Linked DNA regions of Homo sapiens: region 2 is linked to region 1. Evidence: fine-mapped expression QTL. A gene starts in region 1. The other region holds a variant in brackets. All regions are shown on one strand. Distances are from middle to middle.

The links. PIP is the estimated chance that this variant, and not a neighbour inherited with it, causes the effect. A credible set is the group of variants that fine-mapping cannot tell apart.
Region 2: its variant is the best candidate, but not a certain one, in a credible set for the expression of ARHGAP27 in cerebellar hemisphere (GTEx, PIP 0.64).

The regions. Positions count from the first base shown.
Region 1 is chr17:45,431,660-45,434,561 of GRCh38, forward strand. ARHGAP27 (Rho GTPase activating protein 27) reads right to left here and starts at 1,211. Exons shown (of 20, transcript NM_001282290.2): 1 at 1,093-1,211; 2 at 557-690; 3 at 1-93. It also overlaps a transcript of PLEKHM1 not described here.
Region 2 is chr17:45,491,395-45,494,296 of GRCh38, forward strand. LOC105369225 (a long non-coding RNA gene) reads left to right here. Exons shown (of 5, transcript XR_002958152.2): 1 at 1-2,902. Among named protein-coding and RNA genes, the nearest start is that of PLEKHM1, 2.1 kb to the left of the region's middle. The variant T/G (reference allele first, on the strand shown) is at 1,466.

The sequences.
Region 1 (2,902 bases):
GGCGGAGCCGGCGGTGGCTGCAGGTTAGGCCCCTACCATCGCCCTGGGCGGGGTTTCCAGGGGCGAGGCCGGAGAGGCTGCGCGGAACAGGAGCTGGCAAGCAGAGCGAAGAGGGACAGGGACGCTCAGGAGTGCTGTCACCGATACCCAAAGCAGCCGTGTCTGGGTGGGGCGAGGAGGAGCCTGAATGCCTCTGCTGGGGACCTTGGGGGGCATTGGGACGAGGCCCAGAGCAGAAGGCCGGCACCTGGAGCCGGGACTGCTGCGTCTGAAGGGGCACTGGCAGGTCGCGAGCGGAGCCCAAGGAGGATGGGACCGCCCCCGCTCCGCCTTCCCCCTCTATTCCCCGCCCCCCCACCCCCCACCCCCCGGGATTTGCTGTCCGGGAGTGCCTGCGTCCCTCCTGTGCGCGGCTCTGGGAATGCCGGGCTGGGGCTGGTTGTCTCGTGCGGGCGTTCCTGTTCCCGGGGAGGTCATTTGCACCCTGAATCACCCACTGCGAGCCCTTCCAACCGGATTGCAAATCCGCCCGCTCCGGGCCCACCTCTTCCCTCACCAGGGCCTTTCCCGGAGCAGCCCGGCCGGGCCTGGAAAAACTCCGAGCGGGATTCCCAGCGCAGGGACGCCCACCGGAGCTCGATGTCTCGGGCTGGATAAGAAGGGGACCGGACCTCGGTTCCTTCCCCGACCCTGGGGAAACGCAGAGAAGGGGAGGGATTGGGGAAGCCGGGAGGATCCCTGGAGCGCGACAGCGCACCAGTCGCCAGGAGGTCCCCTGCGTCCACTGCCCAGGCGACTCAAGCTACAGGGGCGTCAACGCCTGGGTCGGCGCTGGGGGCCTGGGCCTGCTTCCCTCCAGCCCCCAGATGGAGGGCAGCCCTTCGCCTACCTTCTCCTCCCCGTGGGATGCGGCCCGCGCAGCTCCCGCCCCAGCGCGGAGACAAGGGGAGCAGGCGCGCGGAGCTCCCGGGTGCGGACCCGCCACCTGCCGCACCCTTCCCTTCCCAACCCTGCCCTTTCCCCACCCCCACCCCACTTCCCACCCCCAACCCCCGCTCGGCGCCCCACTCCCGACCCTGCCTGCCCGGGCACCTCGGGGCGTCCGCTCGCCGGCTTCGCCTCCACTTGCCCCGGCAGGCGCGCGTGGGCTCGGCGTCCCGCGCTCCCTCCTCGACTGTGCGGCTCCCGCGCTGCCGGGTTTCCTGTTCAACAATATAACCAGGGAGGCACCGGCGGAGAGCGCCGGGCAGAACTTCCTCCCGGACTGGGGCTGGGCTGCGGTTGCGAGAGACAATCCCCGGTGTCCTGGCTTCCTGTCCCCTCTGGGCCGGGCCAGCGCCTGAGGAGCGAAGACGCCACCCCCTCCCCTGCCTTTCCCGGGATCCTGGGCCGCACCTGGCTGTCTCCAGGGAGAAAGAGGCTGCGGGGCTGAGATGGTGGGACTGGGGAGGGCGGGAGCCTCCCCCGCAGGTTCGCCTGGCCAGATTGCCCTCCCACCATCCCCCACCCCCTCTTGATCCTTGTGGGGAAGGAGGGCCACCCTCCAATCCGTCCACAGGGTAAGCTCAGAACAACCTCCAGGAGTCCAGCCCCAGGGCCCTCCGCCTTGGGGGTCTTCTGTTGGAGAATTTTCTGCCTCTCTGGACAAGCAGCCTCGCCCTGATCTGAGCCTGCACTCACTCCAGACATTACAAGCCACAGCCCCAGCACACCCCCTGCCCTCAGGGGCCCCAAGGAACAGTTGTGCCTGTGGACCTGGCTGTGTGTGCCAAGAGCTGGCTGATTCAGGCCAGTGTTCTGGGAGGAAGAAGGGCCCGCATCCCAGGCCATGGCCTCTCTTGACACCACCTCCTGGGGACCCAGGGTTGGGTGGGAAGCTGAATCTGGCCACCCAGATTCAGAGGAACTCCCTTACCTCTATATCTTTGTAAGATATAGTAAGTAAGGAACTCCCTTACCTCTATATCTTTGTAAGATATAGTAAGTAAGGAACTCCCTTACCTCTATATCTTTGCCTCTGCTAGGCATTGCCCACCTGTGAGTCCACACTTCCTCTGAGAATCTGTGTGTCTGAGCCTTGGTGGCACCTTGGGACCCTCCAGGGTGGGCACACAGCAGAACTCAGCACTGGTCTTTGGTGCCCGACATGCTTAGAAAATAGTGGCTGGTGCCGGGCACGGTGGCTCACGCCTATAATCCCAGCACTTTGGGAGGCCGAGGCGGGCGGATCATGAGGTCAGGAGATTGAGAAACCCTGGCTAACACGGTGAAACCCCGGCTAACACGGTGAAACCCCGTCTCTACTAAAAATATAAAACATTAGCCGGGCGTGGTGGCGGGAGCCTGTAGTCCCAGCTACTCCGGAGGCTGAGGCAGGAGAATGGTGTGAACCTGGGAGGCGGAGACTGCCGTGAGCCATGATCGTGCCACTGCACTTCAGCCTGGGCGACAGAGCAAGACTCCGTCTCAAAAAACAACAACCAAAAAAGAAAAAAAGAAAATCGTGGCTGGAGGAATCTTCTCTCCCTCCCTACCTTTTAGGTCCCTCTCCACCTGCAGCACAGCCAGGCAGTGGCTGGCAGTGGTGATGGTCTTTGCGTGGGGTCAGGCAGGTATGATGCCCCACTCTGCTGCTTGGCGGCTGGTAGGCCTTGGGAGTTCTGCCTTATCTCTGCAGCTCAGATTTCTTTCCTGTCAATGGGATAGTAACACCCACTTCACTGGATTATTGGGAAGATTAAATGAGGTCCACTAAGCAGTGCTTACCACATGCCCAGCGCACACAATATATCAGCTATTTTTTTTAAGACAGAGTCTCACTCTGTCTCCCAGGCCGAAGTGCAGCGGCACGATCTTGGCTCACTGCAACCTCCGCCTCCGGGTTCAAGTGGTTCTCCTGCCT
Region 2 (2,902 bases), 60 kb after region 1:
TTGAGACAGGGTCTCACTCTGTCGCCCAGACTGGAGTGCTGTGGCACGATCACGGCTCACCACAGCTTTGACCTCACGGACTAAGTGGTTCTCCCACCTCAGCCTCCAAGCAGCTGGGACTACAGGCGTGCACCACCACGCCCAGCTAATTTTTTCTTTTTTCTTTTTTTTTTTTTTTTTGCGACGGAGTCTGGCTCTGTCGCCCAGGCTGGAGTGCAATGGCGCGATCTCGGCTCACTGCAAGCTCCGCCTCCTGGATTGACGCCATTCTCCTGCCTCAGCCTCCCGAGTAGCTGGGACTACAGGAGCCCGCCACCACGCCCGGCTAATTTTTTTATGTTTTTAGTAGAGATGGGGTTTCACCGTGTTAGCCAGGATGGTCTCGATCTCCTGACCTGGTGATCCACCCGCCTCGGCCTCCCAAAGTGCTGGGATCACAGGCGTGAGCCACCGCGCCCGGCCAATCTTTTCATTTTTAAAAAAATTTGTTTATTTTGTAGAGACAGGGGTCTCACTGTGTTACCTAACCTGGTCTCCAACTCCTGGCCTCAGGCGATCCTCCTGACTCGGCCTCCCAAAGTGCTGGGATTACAGGCATGAACCACCACACCTGGCCTGTATATCTTCTTTCTAACGCAAAAGTGACATTTCTCTTTCAGATGAACTCGGAACAAAATGTCATAAGTGGTGGCCACAGGTAGTGAAGAGCAGGGCAGGGAGTGTTGGCAGGGACCCATGCTCTGGACACTTTATACTTGCAGGCTTTGGTCAATTGGGAGCCTAGGGCCTGAGTGTGGATGAGGAGAGGTACTGCTACATGCCAGTCCTAAGTGGGCACAGGGGTTGGCTGGGGAACGGGCCAGTTCTTGGAAGCAAGCTTCACTGCCCTCGGCCTGGGCGTCCTGTGCTCTTTTGGCTTCTCTGGGTAGGAAGGTGTCCCTCTTATCTCTGCAAAGTTCAGAGTCCCACTGTCTGCTTTCAAGTATAAAACCAGCACTTGGGGGTATGACCCTGGACTGTATGAGGGCCGCCCTTTCAGTAATTCTCTCTCCAGGAGTGAGAACCTCCCCTTCTCAATTTTAGACTAGATGGGTCTGAGTGTGTTTACTGCAGTTAATGGTTGAGCAGGAAGATTAGAAATAAGGACATAGAGACAAACTATTCTCTCGGTGTTAAACTCATTTTAAACAAAGTGGAAAGTAAGGGATTTAGTAGGGAAATCCTTTCACCTTGGCAAAACGATAGTATACAACTGGCACAGCATAATCCTTGGTGGCTTGGCACAAGCATTCCCTGTCCCCCATCAAGCACATAATGTCCCTCAGTAATTCCACTGCATTTTTGTGCAGCGGCTGTGTGCTGGAGCTGTGGGGAACCCCTCGGTAATCTCTTGTCTGCTTTTTAGGAGCCCCTATCTCCTGGTCTTCTCTTACTTCCCAAGCTACCCTGCTTCTTTGAAAAGTCT[T/G]CAGGCTTGCCTACCTCTTCTCAGCTTGCTCTGCATGCCTTGGGGAAGCTGCATAAAGCATGGATCATGAAGGAGGGGGCGCAGAGGAGAGGGAAATGCATGTTTGCACAAATGGACCCTGAGCCCACCAGGCAGGCTCCAGATGGGGGGGAAAAAAAAAAAAAAAACCCTTACATTATCACGTGACTTGCGCAAGAAAAAAGGTACCTGCAAAGGGCCAAGGGACCAGAGAGGAGAACTTGAGAGGTATTCTGGAGGAGGCGACTTTTGATATGAGCTTTCTAGGTGAGTAAAGGGTATTGCAGCTGAAGGGACTGGCTGGTAAGTGGCCAGCACATAGGAATACAGGCTGAGCTCAGGGAAGGGTGCACCCAGAGGTGGGGAGGAAGGTGGGAAGTGAAAAAGGAGGCTGGGCACGGTGGGTCATGCCTGTAATCCCAGCACTTTGGGTGGCCGAAGCTGGTGGATCACTTGAGGTCAGGAGTTCGAGACCTGCCTGGCCAACATGGTGAAAGCCCATCTCTACTAAAAATACAAAAATTAGCCAGGTGTGGTGGTGTGTGTCTGTAGTCCCAGCTACTAAGGAGGCTGAGGTATGAGAATTGCTTGAACCCGGGAGGCGGAGATTGCAGTGAGCCAAGATAATGCCACTGCACTACAGCCTGGGCGACAGAGTGAGATCCTGTCTCAAAAAAAATTTTTTTTAAATAATAATAAAAATAAATAAAAATAAAAGGAAGTGAAAAAGGAAAGGGTAAGGGGAGAGGGCCAGAATGGAAGGGGAGCTGAAGACTGAGCAAGGCAAAGTTGGAGGCCAGTGCAGAAAGGGCTCAAACCATTTGCAAGGATGGTTCACATCCCACTGGTCTGTCAGCTTGGATTTAAAGCACTACCCAGCGTTATTCAAAGCCACACAGGAGAACTGTAGGCATCAGAATGCCCTGGGGACAGGTCCAAAATGCAGATTCCTAAGCCCCACACTAACCCTAAAGAGTCACTCTAGGATGAGGTCCAAGAATTTGGGCTTCACCCCACCTCTCCTGTCCCCTGCCCTCACCACTGAGGACCTAAAGGATAATGAAAGGGGGAAATCTGTGCCCTAAATAATCCCTTTTGGCAGTTACTTTCTGTTTTCAAAGTTCAAGTCTGTCCTCCGGGACTAACCTAGGAGATGAGGGATAAGGGAATTAACATTTATGGAAAATGGAAGAACATACATAGGCACCTGTGTTCACCTAATATTCCTTACCAGCCACCTGAAAGGTGGGTGCTGCCATTATCTCTATTGTATGGATGAGAAAATAGGCTTAAAAGAGGTTAAGTGGCCAGGTGCGGTGGCTCATGCCTGTAATCCCAGCACTTTGGGAGGCCGAGGTGGGTGGATCATGAGATCAAGAGATCCAGACCATCCTGGCCAACATGGTGAAACCCTGTCTC